2 separate regions of the Homo sapiens genome follow, and region 2 is linked to region 1. Evidence: fine-mapped expression QTL. Tissue or cell type: whole blood. Region 1 holds a variant in brackets; the other region holds the start of a gene. All regions are shown on one strand. Distances are between the middles of the regions. Region 1 overlaps ZFAT (zinc finger and AT-hook domain containing). Region 2 holds the start of ZFAT (zinc finger and AT-hook domain containing).

Region 1 (11,396 bases):
TGAGGATCCTAATCTCTGCACTTTGGCCCACATGGCCCCATCCATCCACTAAGACGTCCTTCCTTCAATTCAATGCCACCCAAACTGTGACACCAGATTCACTCCTGACTTTCCATCAGAATGCTTTCTCCTGCTGACAATTTGTTATCGATTAACATGATGCATTTAAAACCTTGTCTTCTTTCCCAGAACATAAGCTCAGCAAAGAGAGAGGCTGTGTTTTACCATCCCTGCAACTCTCAAAGCATCTAGCAAAGCAGTCCCCTGACCTGCATGCCATGGGCATCAACTCCCAGATGACACATTCACTTCAAAGACTACTTACGGTAATAGTCATCATTAGGAAAATAAGCACTTTTCCAGATGGGTGAGAGCTGAATAAATATGTGCTATTTCCAAGTAAAAACTGACCCAGTGAAACCTGATATTAGCAGATACACCTCTTCATAAGAAATTGACATGTTCAGCCCTTTGGCAGCATTTACCTGCTTCTCCTTCCTCCTCACCCAAATTCAGCACGATAATGCAGATGTGCTTCCGCAGCTGGCGCGTGTTGGAGAACTTCCGACAGCACTTGCTACACTCCAAGCTGCTTGGAGGCAGGCTGTTCCCTTCCTCCGGAGCCAGCGGGCTGTCCTCAGTCGGACTCACGATGTTTTCTGCCAGCTCCTCTTCTGTGCTGGACTTCTTCGTGGACCCCTTAGGCCTGCCTCTCTTCCTCTTCATGACCAAAAACTCTACAGAGGAAACAAGAGGGCACAATGGAATCACGTGAGACGGCAGTGCAGGGTTCACAATCACCCTCCAAGTGTGAGGATATGTTCAGGTTTCACGTTTCATTAAAAATGAAAAGTCTAAAGTGATTCCAGACATTAACAGCTGCAAACAATTATCGTTGGTGCTAATATCATTGCATCTGTGTACTAATGGGTAATCAATTTTCTAATGTTCTGATTCAAGACCATCAGTTTATCAGCATCGCTGTACATCTTTCTCCAGCAATGCTGACAGGATTTTAAGTTGCGGCTGTCAACCCCCCGTTCACAAATCCTGCCCCTTGTTAAGCACCATTTCCACTGAAATCCAGTTCTCAGAAACTGCTTAGGGACTCCTTTGCAAAGCGTTCTCAAAGGCTGCTGAGCTTGTCATGCCCTTAATGAGTTACAAAACTATTCAGATTATTTCAAGGAGTCATAATTATTAGAGTCAAATTGTCCTGGCAAGAAAAAGAAAAAATAATTACAATCTAAAGCCACAAATTATAGCACTAAAGACAATAACAATATTTTTCCAGTTTCCTAGCGACCTAGTGATTTTCAATGGCATGATCACAGCTGCTTTAGAGCAAGTTTAAAATCATTTTACAACTTGTGTTTCTTCTCAATTAGTGTTAATTTTTAAGGCATTCATCTCCGGAATGAAGGTGGGAATTAAGAGGGGTGAGCGGGGGCCAGGCGCGGTGGCTCACGCCTGTAATCCCAGCACTTTGGGAGGCCGAGGTGGGCGGATCACGAGGTCAGGAGATCGAGACTATCCTGGCTAACATGGTGAAACTCTGTCTCTACTAAAAATACAAAAAAAAAACAAAACAAAAAAAAAAAACATTAACCAGGCGTGGTGGCGGGCACCTGTAGTCCCAGCTACTCAGGAGGCTGAGGCAGGAGAATGGCGTGAACTGGGAGGCAGAGCTTGTAGTAAGCTGAGATCACACTACTGCACTCCAGCCTGGGCAACAGAGCGAGACTCCATCTCAAATAAAAAAAAAAAAAGATGGGTGAGCAGGGCAGGGAGCAGAGCATCTCATCCAGTTGTGTGAAGGTGGAGGGGTGTGGTCTTCAACGATGAGACTTAGGAGATGTCCCTGAGCGAGACCAAGCAGAGAGCCGCCAGCAGCCTGGCTGACATCCCCAATGCCAGTCATCTGTCTGGCAGAGGAGTGGCACTTCAGCAACCCTCTTTGAACCTGAACATTGGGGTAGAGGAAGGAGTACTAGATTCTGGCACCATCTTGGGTACACGTGCATCTGTAGAATGTCTCTCAGGTCCCTTCCTGCTCTCTCTAAAGCTGTTGCTCTGCACAGTAGGACACCAGCCACTTTATCTACTGCTATTACCATGAGGACCCGTTAAGTAAGTCACTTGTGCTCACAAATCAGAGAGGGAGGCCACAGGGGCAAAGGGGAGCAGAGATGGGCAGAACAGTCTGGGGCAGAGTCTGCAGGGACACAACAGCCTGACCACAGGGAATCTGAACAAAGAAGCCTGCCTTGGTACGGGGTACCCAAGACCTCAGGGAAACCTGGCACCAGAATGAAGCAAGAGATTTCCTGGGAAAGGAGGGCCCTTGCTGGAACAGAGCTTCAACCAAACTGCAACGCCACTGGTGAGTGGGTCAGCCTTGGCTGAAAGATCCAAACCAGAGTCCTGCACTAAGGCAACCAGCGAGATTCCTGCCTTCACTCTATCTCCCTGGGGCATGGTGGGCAGGGGAGCACAAAGAAGAAGAAGGTACTTAATGATAGGAAGGCAAACCAGATAAAACAAGGGACAGAAGGCCCTGGGAGCCCTCCCTAGATTTAAACAAGGAGAAAAAAGCCTGTGTTTACAGGAGAACCAGCCTGTGTGCAAGGGAGATGGGAGGAAAGAAATACAAGGTACAGAGTAAGAAACCATTTCCCTTGGAGTCTTTAAAACTTTTCTCCTTATTCTTCTTCACAACAACGTGTACTTGCACAATCTACTGAAGCAGCAATTCATATCAGAGAAGCAGAATTAGCAGAGAGGCTACAAAACACCCACCTCGTGTCATGTCAGCTGAGTTCCAGAAACAGGGTGCCTAAGAGTTTACTGAAGCCTGCGGCCCAGGTCTAAACCCAGTGACAGACTCTGCCATCCCGCAGACACAAGCCACTCCCCTGAAACACTCTATGAGGATGTGATTGTGAGTGAAGAATTAACTTTACCCAAAGAGAAGTCTGGCCTTTGCCCTTGGCTACAGGGAGGTGATTTCTAGGCCCCCGGATGTCCCTCCTGATGTCCTATGTTGTAGTTGGGAGAGAGGTAACTTTGCTCAGGACTCCATGGGTGGACCAAAAGCTCCACGTCTAGAACCTTCCCAGTCTGCAACTTTACCCACACACCTCTCTCCCTTTAACTGGCTCTCTGATTTGCATCCTTTGAGTATAATCAAATTATAATCATGAGGACAGGGCTTTCCTGAGTTGTGTGAGTTATTCTAGCAAATTATCAAAGCTGAGAGAGGCCGCAGGGACCTTCCAAATCTGTAGTAGTAAGAAAGAAGTAAAGGTGGTCCAGGAGACCCTCCAAACTTGTGGCTGGTATCAGGAGTCTTGGGCAGACTTGGTCGTCTTGCGGAGAACTGTGCCCTTAAGCTTGAGTTTGGCAAACTTACTATTGCGGGGTAGCCAGTGTTTTCTCCACACAGACTCAATGGAGCACAGACAGCCACAGTGTTTGCACTTGCTGGAGCACAGCACAGCGTGTGGTACAGCAGACATCGTGAGTCTCCACTCCCCCAGACTGGAGACTCCTCGAAGGCAGAGTCCCTGTCCTGATTACTTTTTATCCCCCTCGCACCTAACCTGGTGCCCTGAGCAGCAGGCAGCCAGCAAATCTGGGTGAATTAAACTGATGAGCAATGCACAATTAATTCCAAGGCAAGGAAAAAATAAAATCGGCCTGAAAGCTTTGGAAAACCTCAAACACGATGGTGACAAAACTAATCTTCCAGCTTGCTGCATCCATAATTCAGATCCTCAAGACCAATTAGCTAGCTAAAAATGAAATATTCATGAATGAACTTGAATAATTTAAGCTCTGAAAATGAGTTGCTGCTGTCAACTACTCGCATTTTATGGCAGAGCTGAGAATCTTGGGACTGGGCAAGGAAAATCATGTAACCTCTAAATCAAAACATTTCAATGGAGTTAGCTTTAATTCCTCTTCCTCCCTCTGAATTCCTTTATTTAATCTGTCACTAAACTCTATGGACTTTGCCCTAAAGATGTCTCTCCAGTAAATCCCCTCTCTGTTCACACAGCAACCTCACCACCCAGATGCCTGCACACGGTGTCCAGATTCCAGCCTCCTGCTCTGGGCTTTCTCTGCCTCCATCCCTCATCTGTCATTCCCTCACTCTAGAACCTTCCATTGTTCTGGATGATTTTGCCCACAACTCTCAGGCCTGGCCTTCAAGGTCCTTTAGCACGTGATCCAACCCTGCACATATGCACACACAGACACACACACCTGCACACACACACACATTCAGTGACCCCACTTCCTTCTTCCTCCCCCTTAACTGCTCAGGGCAATTTTCTAGACCTCCCCAAATATACACAGAGAATCCCCGTCTCTTTTCACTTACTTGTACTATTCTCCCAAGCTGTGACCACCTCCTTCACTACCAATCAGAGACCAAGCCCCAGTTCAAATCCTAACATGTCCGGTCCAGTTAAGACCTCAGTGCCTCCTCCATGAGGTGTCCCCAGCTAAGTGAGCAGGATGACTACCCCCACAGCTTGATGTGAATTACAGTGTGAGCCACACACACGTAGGGTGTGTATGCGCCCACACCACTCCCTGATTGTTTCGATTTTTCCCCACCTTTTATGACAAACCCTGAGGTCTGAGCTGGCCTTTTAATTCCTGGGTCCCACAGGGTCTCGAACGGAGCTGGATGTGGAGTAGATACAATTAATAAGTACACACTGATCCACTGTTTGATGATAGAAAAAGAAATATCTGGAAAAGAAGCCATTTCCTGTGTCCCCAGTTTCCAAAAGGAAGAAAGGGCTGAGCCACAGTGCCTCTTAACTCTGCTCTAAATCCACAGTTTGGGGACAACTTCCTCTTAGTCAGAAAATCATCCTTGCAGATCCAAGGCCAAAAACTGGCAAGGGGCAGAGAATCGGCCAAAGGATTACTTCTAACTCAATCAAAACACAACGTGAACACTATGAAAAAATAGCCCAACATTATCAACAATTTAATAACGTAAGCCCTTTATTTGTGCATCACTCAAGTTTGCAAGGCACTTTCCCAGCTATTATCTCATTTTAGCCTTATAAAAATCTTAAGAGATGGATGCAGCAAACACAA[C/T]GTCCTCAATGGGAGAAGAAACAAGGGACACAACGGTTCAAGTGGCTTGGCGCATCTTCCAGAACCAGCTGCTGAGCACGCAGAACTGGAATTTGGGTTTCCTTATTCCCAGTCAAAAATGTATCTGCAGAATCACATACCCCTGAAGCATGGGTAAGAAAAGGTCAGCACTACACACTTTAATAGAGACAATCTGTGCTGTGCAGAGAATGCTGGCTTGGAGCTGGACCGACCTGGGTTCAAATCTCCCCTGAGCCTCCGTTTCCAATGCGAAAAATAAACACAAAACTGCCTCTATTTTATAGAGTCACTACTGATAAAAGCAATCCATTACAATGCTGGGCACAGAACTCAGGAGATGATTGATAAATGGCAACTGTTTAATATTATGGCCATAGTCATTAAGATTCTGACTTAGAATATCTCTTTTAAGAAACTATTATCCTCCCACCTGGTCCACAGTTAGATAATGTGATTTCTTGATGTACATGCATTCTCATTCATTCTGACTCAATACGCATTTTTTCCTTGAGTTCTTCATTTTAAAATAGCTCTCACACCAGGAAATCCAATGTAGAATTAAAGGCACACAAATTTTATTATGCCTAAAACCCTGGATACGGCCAGCTTCCCAGCACTCGCACAGGGCAGCTCAATCTCTAATCACACCAACTCAAGAATTTTGGAAAATCCTGAAAGACTAACATTTTAAGGCCCTGACAGTCAATCTCCCTGACGTTTATTTCCAAAGCTCAGGAAGCAATAGGGGAGACAATGAATTATTTATCATAAATAGGGGAACACAAGCCTCTTAGGTTTATGAGGAATGCAACATCCCCTTTGCAGGGACAGACTGCATCCTGTTCCACAATGCCAGGCACCAGGGAGGCTGAAGGCATCCCAAGCTTGCTCCTTGTACTTTTACCAGCCATATCGTGGAAATGCCACGTAAATAATGGTGATAACTAATCATTATTAAGCACATATATCTCAGGCACCATGCTAAGCACTTCACATGCACGTCCTCATTTAATCCCCAAGGGAGGCATTAGTATGATCCCCATCATATAGTAGAGGTCACTGAGGCTTAAGAAGATTAACTTATTTGCTCCAAGGTCAGGGAATTAATAAATGGCAGAATCAGGAATTGAATACAGACCTGTTTGCCTCAAAGTCAGTGAACTTCATACCCATGTCATAGCAAGTCCTTTGGACAGTTCAATTAATATCTAAGCACAGAAATAATATACTTTGACCTCTTCACTAAGTTCTGCAGGAAAATGACGATAGTCTCATGCAGTGACAAGCTTCAGTGTGATCCCACTCCCTGGGCTGGAAAGTACACGGATGTAAGGTACAGGAGGGTACAATGTCTAACAGGCAGTCACTATGGACTAAGGCATCATGTATGAACATGCACTTGTCTCAGAACCTATGAAAAAGGTCAGTATCTTATCTCTCTTTGACAGGTGACAAAAGTCACAGCCATGCCACTTGTCTAAGTCCCCAGCAGAGCCTCAAGGCTGTGGTGCAGGCTGTACCCTGTGTGAGGCGGTGATTGAAGACTTACCAGGGCCAAATTCCACTAGCCAAGCTGTGTGCTCCGGCACTGGCTGCATCAGCCCTGAGCACGTTTTATGTTTGTTCACCCAGAAACAGCTCCTGTTACTAGCTCATCCCCTCAGAATGGGGGCGCCTTTTGTAATCTGCACAAAGGTCCCTATGTGCCAGCCAAGGCTCCAGCAATCACATGAAAGCTCCAGGAATGGAGCCTAAGTCTGATTCCAAGACGTGTGCCCTTTCCACTACACTGCGCTGCTGACCAGGGCAGATCAGAGTGCTCAACATTCGTACATGCACTCAGAATGACTGGATTTGTGGTAAATGCCCAGAAGAGACAACATACAGATTTAAACATAGACATCAACTTCCCCTGGGAAGCCTCCTTTTACCCTCACATTAGAGGACGTCTTTAGCAGCCTGAACTTAACCGCGCAGAGGCACTCGCCCTGCTGCACTGAAACTGCCTTTTTGCCTATTTGCCATTCACCAGCTAGGGGGCCAGAGTCAACAGCCTGTGGGCCCCTCCTGCAGCCCCAGCACCTAGCACAGCACCCAGACATACAGCAGGCACCCAACAAACAGTTAATGACTAAAGAGATGGAAAGGGGGAGGGGAGAGGAGAGGAAAGATAAGAAAGGAAGAATTCCTGCAGAGGGTCTGAAATCAGAGAGAAAATGGGAGAGCCAAAACGAGGCTCTCGGGAGACCCATGTACATTCTTCCTCAATTGCCCCAGCCTCCATCAGGATAAATGAATGCATGCGTGTGCACACACACTCTCACACACACATGCTCATACACACCCATATACAAAATCATACACGTGCACACACATATCCATATACACAATCATACACACATACACAAGCACCTATACAACCACACACACATGCACACTCACACACGTACACAACCACATACACAACCCATGTACACAACCACATACACATGTGCACACTCCCAAATGTACCGTATACACAATCTCACACACAAACGTGCACTTACACATGTGCCCACAACCACACACACGTGCACTTACACATATGCCCACGACACACAGCACACTCACAAACGTGCCCATATTCACAATCACACACACATGTATACTCACAATGTGCCCAGATATGCAATCACACACATGCACACTCGCATGCGCACATATACAGTATCACACACGTGCACACTCACACACCATCTATATACACAATCACACAACGTGCACACTCAAACGTGCCTATATACACAATCACATGCACACACACAAACACACCCATATACACACATACCTGTGTACTCACAAACACACCCATACACATACACACAGAGATATGATCACACACACGCACATGGGATCACACACACGAGAATGAGCTTGGTCCATTAGGAAATTTCTTCTTGGATCACAGCCAGAGGTTTGATGAGGAAAAGAGAAGGAAAATGAAAGGTCTTTCTGCAGACCACTTCCTACATGAGCAAAAAAGATTAAAAGGCTATAAAATAAACCAGAGGATTTCAGTGGCTTCACGTTATAACGAGAGACCAAAATAATAAATCAATTACTACTCAGTTAAAGGTTTAATTAAACCATTTCAAGTAGCTCTCAATTTAAAATGAATTGTGAAGGTTAAACCTGAATGAAAATCATTAGAGAGAAACTAAGCCTCTACAAGCCTCAAATTTTATGAACTTTCACAAAGAGAAAAAGAAAGACTTGAAGTTCATAATGAAAGACTTTTTAAAATTTTTTGTCATGTTAAGAGGCTGAGTTTAACTAAGGAATTCATGCTTTTTAAAATTAAACTACACAGACAAAAGTAGTTTAGTATACACACACACACAAAAAAGAAAACATACGGAAGAAGAATTTGTCAAAAGTAAATTATTTAATAAAAGAAAATAATTTATAAAAGTAGGCTCAATGATAAGAATTTGATTATTCCTGGACTACCACCATAACATGCAAATAACATCAAATCAGCTGGGCCTAAATCCCTCCCTCTCACTTACTATATAGGTAATCTTGAACATGCTGTTTTAACTCCTCTGAGTCTCTAAGCCACATATTCCTCAATTATAAAATCTGGGCATCAGCCAGGAAATAGATGTGAATAACCCTATAAACCAACAAATTCTAATACATATACCGAACATGCCACCCAGCAACAGCAGAATACAAAGTATTCTCAAGTCCACATGAAAAATTCTCCAAAACAGACAACATTTTAGGCCATAAGTTAAGTCTCTATAAATTTAAAAGAACTGAGCCAGGCGCAGTGGCTCACGCCTGTAATCCCAGCACTTTGGGAGGCCGAGGCGGGTGGATCACAAGGTCAGGAGTTTGAGAACCATCCTGGCCAACACAGTGAAACACCGTCTCTACTTAAAAAAAAAAATAGAAAAATTAGCCGGGCGTGGTGGCGGGCGCCTGTAGTCCTAGCTACTCAGGAGGCTGAGGCAGGAGAATCGCTTGAAACTGGAAGGCGGAGGTTGCAGTGAGCCGAGATCACGCCACTGCACTCCAGCCTGGGCGAAAGAGCGAAACCCCATCTCAAAGAAAAAAGAATGGAAATCATTCAAGTATGTGGAATTAAATTAGAAATAAAAAGGAAGAAATTTGGGAAATTCAAAAATTTATGAAAATTAAATGGTACTCTTAAATAGCCATTGGGCCAAAAAGGAAATCATAAGGGAAATTAGAAATACTTTGAGATGAACAAAACAAAAACACAACATACCAAAACTTATAGGATGTAGCAAAGGCAGTTCTAAAAAGAAAGTTTATTGCCTACATTAGAAAAAAAGAAAAATCTCAAATAAACAACATAATTTTACAACTCAAGGAATTAGACAAAGAAGAATAAATAAGCCCAAAGTGAGCAGATGGAAGGAAATAATAGAATAGAGCAGAAATAAACAAAATAGAAAAAGAATAAAAAAGATCAACAAACTAAGAGCTTGTTGTTTGAAAAGATAAACACAGTTGAGAAACCCTTAGCTAGACTAACCGAGAAAAAAAGAGAGGCCACAAATGAATTAAATTTTGAATAAAAAAGGACACATTATAACTGGCACCACAGAAAGACAAGTGATCATAAAAGACTACTATCAACAATTATATGCCAACCAACTAGATAACCTAGAAGAAACTGATAAATTCCTAGAATCACACAATCTACCAAGACTGGATCATAAGGAAATAGAAAATCTGAATAGATCAATAACAAGTTAGGAGACTGAATCAGTAATCAAAATCTCCCAACAAAGAAAAGCCCAGGACCAGGTGGTTTCACTGGTGAACTCTACCAAACATTTAAAAAGGAATTAATTCCAGTTTTACTCAAGCTCTTCAAAAAAATTAAAGAGGAGGGAATACCTCCCAACTCATTTTGTAAGGCCAAAGCTAGACAGACACTACAAAAAAAGAAAATTACAGGCCAATATTCCTGATAAACAAAAATACTCAAAAAATACTAACAAACCAAATTCAACAGCACATTAAAAAAATTACACGCCATGATAACGAGGGTGTTATCTCTAAGATGCAAGGCTGGTTCAACATATGTGTATAAATAAATGTGATATATAACATTTATAGAATTAAGGACAAAAATCATACATGATCATCTCAATAAGTATGGGGAAAAGTTTGACAAAATTCAACAACCCTTCATGATAAAAACTCTCAAAAAACTAGATAACAAGGAATGTACCACAACATAATAAAGGAATGTGCTTCAACAAACGACAGACCCAGAGCTAACATAATAATCAACGTGAAAAGCTGAAAGCTCTCCTCTAAGATCAGGAATAGGACAAGGGTGCCTACTCTCACCACTTATATGCTTCCTGGCATTGGAAGTCCTAGCCAGAGTAGTTAGGTAAGCAAAAATACAAAGCATGCAAAGTAAAATGGAAGGAGTAGAACTGTCTCTGTTTGTAGATGACATAATCTTAGATATAGAAAGCCCTAAAGATTATACTTCTAATAGCTTTTGGATAATGTATAAAGTTACAAATGTTACAAGATACAAAATCAACATACAAAGATCTGTTGTGTTTCTACACAAAAACAACTGAAAAAGAAAACGATCCCATTTATAATAGCGTCGAAAAAAATACTTAGGCATAAATATAATCAAGGTGAAAGATCCGTATACTAAAAACCATATCAATGAAAGACATTGAAGACGACACAAATAAATGGAAAGATATCCCACATTTATGGATCAGAAGAATTAATATTGTTAAAATGTTCATACTAACAAAAGCAACCTATAGATTCAATGCATCCTGGGAATCTAAGGTAAAGCATGATGACTATAACTAACAACACTGTATTATATACTTAAAATTTGCTAAGACATATCTTAAATGTTTTCACCACGTACATACAAAAATAATGGTAGCTATGTGAGGTAATAGATGTGTTAACTAACCTGATTGTGGTATCATTTCACAATATATATGTATAACAAATCATCACTGTAAACTTACACAATTTTGTCAAGTATACCTTAATAAAGCTGGAGAAAGAAAGAGAGAGAAGGATCTGAAAGATAAAAGAACTATCTCAAATCAATAGCCTACCCTTTCCAACCTAAGAAAAAAAAACAGAAGCAAGCTAAATCCAATACAAGCAGAAGGACAGAAATAATAATGCCTAGAATGGAAAGAGATTATATAAAATATAGAAAAAGAAAAGAGAAAATCAAC
Region 2 (11,396 bases), 70 kb after region 1:
GTCAGGAGTTCCAGACCAGCCTGGCCAACATGGTGAAACCCCGTCTCCACTAAAAATACAGAAATTAACCAGGTGTGGTGGTATCCCCCTGTAATCCCAGCTACTCGGGAGGCTGAGGCAGGAGAATTGCTGGAACCTGGGAGGAGGAGGTTGCAGTGAGCCGAGATCGTGCCATTGCCCTCCATCCTGGGCAACAAGAGCAAGACTCCATCTCAAAAACAAACAAACAAAAAAAGACTAGTGGTTGCTTGGGGTGAGGAGCAGGGATGGGATAGTAAGGGGCAAGAGAAAACTTTCTGGGCTGATGAAAAAGTTCTGTATATTGTTAGGAGTGTGGGTTATGTGAGTGGTCAAACTCTACACTTAAGGTCTATGCATTTCAGCATGTATATAGTACGCCAAAAAAAAAAAAAAGAAAGAAAGAAAAAACCTGTCTCCTGGCAGCTGCCAGAGATCTTTCTTTCTGAAAGGCTAATTAGCCAGCCTTGTTATCTTCCTGTCCCTCAACATTTCCAAGATAAAGTCCTGACAGCTTCCCACTACTCAAAGGCCCTTCATCACAGACCTCCAGCACCCCATGCCCCTCCCCAAACTCAGTGCTCACCTGGTCACAAAGGGTGGGTCACACCTGTGTCACTGTACCAGCTGTCCTTTCTACAGGGCACCTCTGCTCACCCTACAAGACCCAGCTCAAAACATCTCCTCCTTCAGGAAGCCTTCCCACAATCCCTGGGGCTGGGGTAGATGCACCCCCTCTGAAACCCTCAATACTCAAGGCTTACTTCCATCACAGCACCTAGACCCATTCCTACAGGAATCCGTTTTCCACTGCCAGGACTGCATGAAATCCTCAAGAGGAAAGAACATGTCATATTGGACTTTGCATGCCTAGCAAACAGCACAAAGTTTGGCATAAACATCTAGGTAAACTGATGACCAGCCTAATAGTAAAAAAAAAATTAATAAGCAATAATAATAACCCTAAGGGGCAGAGAAATGGTAGCCACTCCTGAAGAAGAGGCCCACCAGCAGGGACACAAGGAGAATATCTAACACTAAGAAAGAAGCCAGTTAGAGCCCTACAAGAAGTCTTGGGGCTGAATTAAAATGCCCTCCAGCAATGCCAGGACACCCCAAGCTCTCCTGGTCCTTGGCTCCAGGTCCCATGGCTGAGCTGGTCCTCTTTTCCCCCACTGCCCACTATGGGATGCTGCCCCTTTCTTATTCAGACAACCCGCAGCTTCCACTGGCATCCTCTAAGGCCAGGTCCCTACCCCACCCATCCTGCCTTGATCAGACTGTGTTGAACACAAAGGCATCCGATTCCAGAGTTCCACCTTTTGCAGCTCCATGTATTACATGATTTAAAATAACTCAAAAGATTTGAAACCAGTATATTGAAAGGAATGACTGAACCATGTTCACTGTTGTGCTATTCACAATAGTCAAGTATGGAATCGGCCTCAGTGGCCAACAACACATGAATGATTTTTTTAATGTGGGACATATACACAACGGAATATTATTCAGCTGTAAAAAAGAAATGTTGTCGTTTGTGACAACATGGATGAAACTGGAGAACACTGTCCTAAGTAAAATATGCCAGCACAGAAGGACAAACACTGCATGTTTTCTCTTACATGTGAACTCTAAAACAATGGAGCTCAAAGAAGCAGAGAGTAGAATGGTGGGTACCAGAGCCTGAAGGTGTAGGAAGAAATGATGATCAAAGGCTACAAAGCCTCAATTAGACAAGAGGAATCGTTTTTTTCTTTGAGACATATTGCACAGCATGGTGAATACAGTAATAACGTACATTTCAAATTTGCTAAGAGTAAATTTTAAATGTTTACTTACCACAAAATGATAACTATTTGAGCTGATGGATATGTTAATTAGCTTGATTTAATTATTCCACATTATACTCATAAATCATAACATCACATTATACCCCGTAAAGAAACAAATATGTCGTTACAGTTTTTTTAATTTAAAAAAAGATTATGTTACCCAATTTTAAGTCCGTGTTTTTCTATAAATATGCCAAGCATTATCTTTATAAGTAAACTCAATCATCTATATATTTTGTGTTCCTTGAAAAAAAAGGAGGCAACTTTAAATCTGTAAGATGTTTAAAATGTCTATTTTGTTTTGCTCTGCTTTTTCTTTTCTCTTTTAAAAAAAAATTACTCGGCCAGGCACAGCGGCTCACGTCTGTAATACTGGCACTTTGGGAGGCTGAGGCAGGCGGATCACCTGAGGTCAGGAGTTGGAAACCAGCCTGACCAACATGGTGAAACCCCACCTCTACTAAAAGTACAAAATTAGCGAGGCGTGGTGGCGCATGCTTATAATCCCAGCTACTTGGGAGGCTGAGGCAGGAGAATCGCTTGAGCCCAGAAGGCAGAGGTTGCAGTGAGCCAAGATCACACCATTGTGCTCCAGACTGGGCAAAGAGCAAAACTCCGTGCCAATAAATTAATTTAATTTAATTTTTAAAAATGACTTATTTAAAAAAAATTACTCGGCTGGGCACAGTGACTCAAGCCTATAATCCTAGCATTTCAGGAGGCCGAGGCCAGTGGATCTCTTAGGCTGAGTTCAATACCAGCCTGGTCAACCTGGTGACACCCCATCTCTACAAAAAATACAAAAATTAGCCAGGTGTGGTGGTGCACCCCTGTAGTCCCAGCTATTCAGGAGGCTGATGTGGGAGGGTGGCCTGAGCCTGGGAGTCTCTGCCTTTCCATCCACAAATGCTTTCAAGAAGAGAGTGGATGACAATGTACTGAGCTGTACACTGGGAAGTCTGGTTCTGGGAAGGGAAGAGACAAACCCCATTTCCTGAATGCCATCAGCAGCCACCTGTGGCAGGACTGTGTCTCCTTTGCCGGTGAAGGGACTGGGGTCCCAAGGGTTCTGTGACTTCCCTTAGGTCAGGAATCTGGTGAGAGGCAGATCTCTGGAGCCAGAGCACGTGCTCTTTCTACCCTCCTAAATGTTCCAGCCCTTAAAGTTGATGCCTGCCCTTGAGAAATTGCAAATCAGTGAAACTTTAACAGGGTAAACAGCTGAGAAGAGAGGGAAAACTTAACTCTAGGCTAAATCTCTTTTACGTAATTAAATCAGCCCATCTTGGTGCAGAGTTTTTCAGAGGCTGTATGCTTGAAACTATCTACAAAGGGAAATGCAATTAAGGAGACTTTTTAATATATCTGATTCTTGACTGCCCTTGCTCTAGGCAAGAGCTTAATTCTACTTAACAATAGCTATCTTGCAAAAGTTATGTAAATTGCAAGGTATGGGGAGAAAAGAAACAGGAATCCTTTCACCGGAGGCAAATGAGAAGCCCACTGAGAAGGGAGCACTGCGGTAAGACGGCTCCAATTCACACAATGACCATCTCAGCTCATTTGCCACCTACAGCTGTGCCCTGTAGACCACATGCAACTCCACCTCCTTATCATTCATTGTACTCCCTTTCCTAAATTAACCAAAACAGGAAACTCTTTTCAGAAATTAGCTGACCATGAGTTGACAGTAACACATTTTAAAATATGATCTTTTCTCATTTGGTACAGCTGGAAATTGAAGGAAACTTCAACATATGTCCAGGGTTCTTTTTTAAAACTCTTGGGTAAATTCCAGAAGTGGAGAAGTGGGCAACTCATTCTCTCTATATAAGCAACAACGTGGGAGGAGGAAGGCACCAATCGAAAAGATATTTCACGTTTATCAAAATGGAGTCACTCATGTCAAACTCTAACAAAATGGAGCCAGAGGATAGGAAGGAAGGGCCCTCATGCAAGTATGCCTATGACAGGAACTATGCCAGGAATTCCTTAGAGCCTGTTACTTGCACAGGACACTTGCCTGGTGCACCTGTCTCCAATGGACTAATGCCAGCTCCTGCAATAAACCTCTGAAACCAATGGTCTTTGTTTCAAAACCGCTTAGGTGGACTTCCCTTTTGGGTCTTTAAAAGTTTCCATTTGCCCCAACTTCTTTGGACGTACCTATGATCCAGCATAGCGCATGTATCTAAATTGCAATCCCCTATTATTCCCAAATAAACTACAGTTTCAGGATCCCATATCCAAAATGCTTGGGACCAGAAGTTTTAGAATTCCAGATGTTTTTGGATTTTGGAATATTTGCATATACATAGTGAGATAACCTGAGGATGGGACCCAAGTCTAAACATGAAATTTATTTATGTTTGATGTGCACCTTATACACACAGTCTGAAGGTAATTTTACAATATTTTTAATTTTGATCATGAAACAAAGTGTACAATGAACCATCAGAAAGCAAAGGTGTCACTATCTCAGCCACACATATGGGCAATCTGTGGTTGTCTGGCATCGCCATCATTCCCGACTCTGAATTTCTATGCTACCAATAAGACAATCACTTTCTTACATTTATTTACACATAAGTCCTTACCAGTAAAAAATATGACACACCATTAATACAGTGAAAAACAAGGTGTTCAAGGTACCTAAGCGGCACAGCAGCATCACCAGAACACATGCATCAGCTGCTAAACAACAGAACAATAAACAACGGCTGGCTTTAAGTCTGCTGTTCAGCCTGCATTTCTTTCTGAGTGTTAACAGCATCGTCTTTACAGTTGTGCAACTGTTGTTTTGTTTTGTTTTTTGAGAAAAATAGAGATGGGGTTTCACTACACTGCCCAGGCTGGTCTTGAACTCCTGGACTCAAGGGACCCTCCCGCCTCAGACTCCCAGAGTGCTGGGATTACAGGCGTGAGCTACTGCGCCCGGCTATGGAACTGCATTTCTGCTGAGAACCTTCACGAGGTCAGATAGAAAATTTTCCACTGTGGCCTCATGTCAGTGCTCAAAGTTTCAGACTTTGGAGCATTTCCGATTTCGGATTTTTGGATTAGGGATGCTCAACCTGTATTTGGAGAGCAAGTCTCTCCGGTGCTCATTTTAGGCTAACCTAAGACAGCACACCTGAATCAGCTGGGCACCACAGCTAATCAGCGCACCTGTGGTCACAGCTACTTGGCAGGCTGAGGCGGGAGGTTTACCTGAGGGCGGGAGGCAGAGGTTGCAGTGACCCGAGATTGCACCATTGCACCCCGGCCTGAGTGATAGTGCGGGACTCTGTCCCAAAAAATTAAAAAAATTAAATTAAAAAAAAGCACGCCTGATATAGTTCGGGTCTCCTGACCCAATATTCGGCTCTGGGCCCACTCTGTCACTCCAGGACACATTCTCCCACATCTAGCACCGCAGCAGGTGGAGGCAGGACTACGACTGGGACTGCTCTTTACCCCTGCCTGGCGTGCAGAGGGGATCCTTGCAAAGCTGTTATTTGAACTAAAGTCAGGAAAGGTGTCCCTGGGGGTTAGAGGTAGGACACGCTACTTCCTTCAGCATGGGGACACACACTACAGATGTTTCAGTAGATGAACTGGTAGGCTCGGAAGATAAAGCTGGTGAGAGGCAGCTGTGCGGGGCATCTCCAAAAGGTCACTTGGACTCCAGCAAAAAAAGCCAGACTGATGGGCAGGCGTGATCAGTTAGCGCGTTCGTTCTTTCATTCACTAAGTATATAGTGAACACTTACATGAGCCAAGCCCTATTCTAAGAAGATGGAGGTACAAGTCAGGCGAGCACGCAGGAGTTTGGATTTTAGCCCAAGTTGGAGGAAGTTAATTTTTAAAGCCCCAGCTCTGTCGTTTTTAAACTGTGTAAAGTTGACCTCTCTGAACTTCTGTTCCTCATAATAAATGACCTACAAATTAGAGTTCTCAAGAGAGCTGAGCAGCAAAACGTGTTAAGTCAGTGCCCAAATGTGGAAGCTTGTGGTAATTACAGGTGAAGGACCCCAAGCTCAAGGTTAAATGACTTGCACCGGGTGTCAAGTGGAAGATCTGTCACTCTATTAGGTCCAGCCGGCGGCCGGGAAGCCTGCAGGAGGTACTCATTTCGCCAAGGAGGAATCCGAGGCCAGGCAAGAAGGAAGCCCCGCCAAGGTCCAGTCAAAGAGCTGGCATCGCCGGGATTCGAACCTCGCGCCCACTGCGTTCCGTCGCTGGCCCGCGCCCCAACGCCACCCATTGCCGTGGAAACGGCCGGGCGCATGCTCTCCCACTCGCTCCCGCCTTGCTTTTTTTTTTTTTTTGCGGCGGGATACCCCAGCGACTGAACGTGAGCCGCAGAACGCAACTACGTTCGCTCTCCTCCCCAGACCCGGATCCCTCCGCGGCCGGCGGCCGGCGGCCGGCGGCCGGCGCACTGCTTCCCGACTCGACGCTCGAAACGGCTTTCCGCGCGCCGCGCCGCGCCCCACCCCCACCCCGTCTCACCCCAACCCCCAGCCCGGCTCACCTGCCGCCCGCGTCTCCATGGCAACGCCCCACCGCGGAGGAAAAAAAAGCCTCGGGCTCTTCCGGGCCCCCTCCCGTGCCGACCGAGGGGGCGGGGCGCCCTGCTGACGCTTCGCTTTTTATTTTTATTTTTTTAAGAAAAGAGCCGGCGAGGTTATGGCGAATCTGCGGCATCCAACATGGCGGATGGAGTCTTCGCCCTCCTCCCCACGGGGCGCAGACGCCTGCGTAGCGGACGTCCGCTTCGGGTGACCCTCCCCCGGCGCCGAGCGCGGCCCGGCAGGGCCGAGCTAACGCGCATGCTCGCAGTCGGAGGCCGTGCTTTTTATCCCACTTCACGGATTCCGCTGCGCCGCGTTTTGAGCCACGCCCAGGGAGGGGCCCTCGGGAGGTCCGGAGCGCGGATCTCGGGGTCAGGAGTCTGGCGGTTGTGCCAGGCCTCTGCTAGCGCGACCCTAGACCCGCGGCATGTGGGGCCGCCGAGCTGGGCGTGCAAGGAGAGTTCTGGGTGCGCTTCGTGTCCCAGCTCTACCTCTCACTACCTAACTTGGGGCAGCGAATTAACTTTTCTTGCTCTCAGTTTACTGATGTGTCCATCGGGGTGCTCCCAACCTGCATCCCGCTCAAAGCTGCGGCGTTTCCCGAAGCGTGGGGTGCTTTCCTTTGGGCCACCCGGCTGGGTTTTAGGGGCTACAGAGCACTGAGCGGCCTACGATCACACGTGACAAGGCGACTTCCTCCTCTCTCGTCTCTTTTTGTCCCACAACAAGTCTGCACTGGATGTGCGCGCCTCCAACACCCGCTCATTCATTTCTCTGCTTGTGGCACAGCCTTCGGCAGGCAGCTGAGTCTGGTGGAAATTTAATGACTTTGTTTTTGGTTTTGATGTTAAGGTGTTTAGCTCCAACACTGTAGTCCTCGGCTCAAATGATATCTTCCAGCCCCTAACCCTCACCCCCCGAAACCCATCTAAAGTAACCCTCCAAGACACTTCATATTTTCTACGTAGCATCCATTCCTATCTGTCATTATCTCCCTCCCTTACCTCTGTCAATGGTCACCCCGTTAGCCTCAGAAACAAACTGAGCCTGACAGTTATTTATTTCATGAGTAATGAGTTGATGTGGTCCATGTTCTAAGGTCATTTTCTGTTCATGACAAATAACGTTTTTCACTTACAGTAGTCATATAAAGTTTTTAAATTGTTCGTTTACATTTTCAAAAATCAGTCAACTTAAAATGGTGTACATGCTGCAAAGACATGCCCCCCCCCCCCCAAAAAAAAAAAGTGTAAAAGCAGACTTCAGGAGACTGAAGTTTGGGAAACTGATTTGTGTTCATGGTTCCCCTGAAATGCTAGTCTTTGCCTGTTCTTCTTTTCCTGGAATAACCCTCTTTGGTTGCTGCTCAACATGAAATTCTCGGACAGCCCTGAAGTTCACACTTCATGTTCCCACAGCTCTGGTCTCACTGGCCTAGCTCCATCCCCCACTTCTCTGTTTGCACAGCGTTCATCCTCACTAGACTGAGCTTCCTGAGCAGCCCTTATAGGTCCTTTTCATCTTGTTTTCTCAGCGCCTGTTGCATAGTCATATTACTGAATGAACACTTCGTTCTGGGGTCACTTATTTTTTAGGAGGAAAACTCCCTTGGGCATTGAGCTTCAGGATGACTCATCTGATTTCTCAGGAGACTGCCCGCCTGCTCCTTAACCCTGTTCTTGGGAAATACGGAACCATGAAAAGACCCTAAAGTTGTCCAGTCTGTTAAATATATGCTCACAGATATAGCCTCCCCCTTCTTCATTTCATCCTCGCAATCTGGAAGGTTAAGTTGGGCAATATGATTATTGTCCTTTTCCAGATGAGAAAATGGAATGTTCAGAGTGGTCAAATGGCTTTCTGAGATTACACAGCAAAATAGTGAAGAGCCAGGTGTGGATCTCGCCTCTCCATGCCCAGTGTTCCTCTCCCCACCACATCTAAAATGTACCCAAACTGCCCCCCAGGCCTCCAGGAGAGCCTCCAAGAGAGCCAGTTCCAAGACAGCCACAGAGTCGCTTCACAGCCACCACGTCCTCCACCACAAGATACATGGCTAGGTGGGGCCCATCAGAATCTTTATTTGGAAATGAACTGCTCAAAAAGCTGCATTGATGAGCGTTTCCTTTTAGAACTATAAATATTTACAATAATCATTATTTTGCTGTGAATCGATTTCTGTCAGGAAATTAGAGTTGTTCTGGGTTGCTGACAGTATTGGTTTTGTGCCGGTTTGCCTTTCTCACAGCAGCGTTTAAATGTTGTTTATTGATTAGCAGATGGATTGCTCCTAGATGTTGTGACCAAACGAATTTTGGAAATGAAACAATTTAAAATTTGTCTCAAAACCCAATTACCTCAGACTGCTGAAGACAAATTAAAAGAAGAAATTGTGGACTGTGGATGATGGTTCTGGGTTAATTATTTGGAAAGCTATGATTTTCTCCACTATTCCCATGGCATTTTCTTCCTCCTACCCATTCATCATTCAGAGAAGAGTTACTGAGCACCTATTATTACTGGAAACTGTCCTGGCCATAGGCAGATGGAAATGACTAAGAGATGGCCCCTTTCTGTGGGGGAATCCAGGTTCGTAAATGGAGAGATGAGTCCACAGCTGGCTCTTCCACGGCCTTACTATGTGATTTGCACATTTTCAATCAGCAAACATCTCTATTCTTTCTATTTGCCAGTAATATTTCAGAATGCCTTCAATTAATGAAGACACATTTGTGGAATTGGATGTAAATCACTCGAAAGTATATAATTAATGGCAAGCTGCCTCGGTGATGGTTCCTAGAAGAGAGCGGCTTCCCAGCTGACCACTGGTGGCAGTTGGCCTCTTGAAGCTAGTATGTGAATTAATTTGTGTCAATAAATTTATCGACATGAAATGGTATTTAGTTATATAAGAAATATAATTTGCACAACTGAATATATTCGTGTCAATAATTTTATCATTATATCCAATATCTTTATGAGAAATAGACATTTACATGAAAACAATAATTTAGGAACATAATTTCACAGGATGCTTTCTTGAAAGAAGGTTTTGATAAAGGATACATACAGGCGACCTCAAAATAATGGATCTTGGCTGGGCATGGTGGCTCATGCCTGTAATCCTAACACTATGGGAGGCCAAGGCTGGAGGATTGCTTGAGCCCAGGAGCTCAAGGCTGCAATAAGCTGTGATCATGCCACTGCACTCCTCCAACCTGGGCAGCAACAAAGCAAGACCCTGTCCCTAAAATTTATTTATATATATATATATATGTATATATGCACACACACACACATATATATATATATGCATATGTATGCACACACACATATATATCTATAAAATGATAAAATCAGAGGTGGGAATAATCAGTTTGGGTTAACAGTTAAAAATCTAAATAGGCACATTGTAGAAAATAATCCACTTAAAAATCATATAAAAGAGAAGGATGTAGTAATGCTAGAACTATATGAGCAATCTCACTATGAACATAATTACAAGATTAGGAAACAGCATCTTTTCCACCTGTCTTTCCAGTGGCCATGGAGTGCCATCACATCCCCGGTCTGCCTGTGCACACCTGTGTGTACTCTCAGTACCCAAGTATTAATCTCCGGAGTGGTTTTCATTAGCAGTAGCCAGGGCCCCTTCAAAGAAGCTAATTCCATGTGTGGGAGTAAGGGAACATCAGAATGGCCTGAAACATATTGCTATTCTCAGAAAACCAGGTTCCTTCCAAAAATGCTGGGTTAGTGCTGAAAGGACAAAGGAAGAGGCAGTGACAATTTGCATATCACAACAACTGTAGATCTATGGTTGTTGATCTACAAGTTGAGCCATGAGGCTTTACTGATAAAAAGTTAACATTGTATATGCAAAAATAGACATATAACTGTGTAATTACAAAACTAGTTACAATTCAAAGAAAGGGTCAAAATAGGATATTTTAGTAAAGAGACAGGTTTGGTAGATATGGGGTCCTATTTCTTACTTGAAGTTCTGTATGTCTGTTTATGAAATGGTATATTTGTGTAAGTTTCGAGGGGCAGATAAGTTTACTAAGAGTAAGTCAAAGACTTCCAGAAGACTAGGAACCATGCCAAAACCAGGAAGGGCAGGTCAGGACCAGTGGTCTCATAAATAACCAGCTAAAAGGGGGGTTCAATAATTTATGTTGGAAGTTAATGGATTAGCCAGATGTCCTAAGGGAGTAGCTGATAGATTAAACTGCTATATGGCCCTGCTAATGTTAATGAAATGCTAATGATGCATAATGAAGGTCATTGTAAACTGTGGCAGAACATCATGGACCCAAGACTTCATGCACATGGGAGTGAAGATTGCAAGAACTTGCTGTAAGTCCTCTTGACTTAATAGTTGAAAATGGTCTGAGGGAGCCCCCACCAGCAAATGCCTGCTGCCACCAAGAACCCACCAGTCCAGGCCCAAGGCTGCCACTCAGTGCACCTGGGAAGGAGATCATCTTTCTCTCTGTGGTCCAATAAGGGCAGTCCTGAAAAAGTATAAAAATATGTTTTGTAGAGATGACAAAGAAATTGGTCAAGTCAATAACAACTCTTTTTTTTTTTTTTTTTTTTTTTTTTTTTTTTTTTGAGACGGAGTCTCACTCTGTCGCCCAGGCTGGAGTGCAGTTGTGCCATCTCGGCTCACTGCAAGCTCTGCCTCCTGGGTTCATGCCATTCTCCTGCTCAGCCTTCCGAGTAGCTGGGACTACAGGCGCCCACCACCACACCCGGCTAATTTTTTTTTTGTATTTTTAGTAGAGACGGGGTTTCACCATGTTAGCCAGGATGGTCTCCATCTCCTGACCTCGTGATCCGCCTCTGTCACCCAGGCCAGAGTGCAGTGGTGAGATCTCAACCCACCGCAACCTCCGCCTCCAGGATTCAGGCCTCCTGCCTCAGACTCTCAAGTAATTGGGATTACAAGCGCTTGCCACCATGCCCAGCCAATTTTTGTATTTTT

Evidence for each region. PIP is the estimated chance that this variant, and not a neighbour inherited with it, causes the effect.
Region 2: ZFAT starts here. The variant in region 1 is fine-mapped to the expression of ZFAT in whole blood (INTERVAL, PIP above 0.99).

Annotation. Positions count from the first base shown.
Region 1 is chr8:134,636,976-134,648,371 of GRCh38, forward strand. It overlaps ZFAT (zinc finger and AT-hook domain containing), which reads right to left. Exons shown (of 16, transcript NM_020863.4): 3 at 486-737. Among named protein-coding and RNA genes, the nearest start is that of ZFAT, 70 kb to the right of the region's middle. The variant C/T (reference allele first, on the strand shown) is at 5,122.
Region 2 is chr8:134,706,479-134,717,874 of GRCh38, forward strand. It overlaps ZFAT (zinc finger and AT-hook domain containing), which reads right to left and starts at 6,553. Exons shown (of 16, transcript NM_020863.4): 1 at 6,367-6,553. The coding sequence starts at 6,385. RefSeq lists enhancers at 2,950-3,633, 6,385-6,564.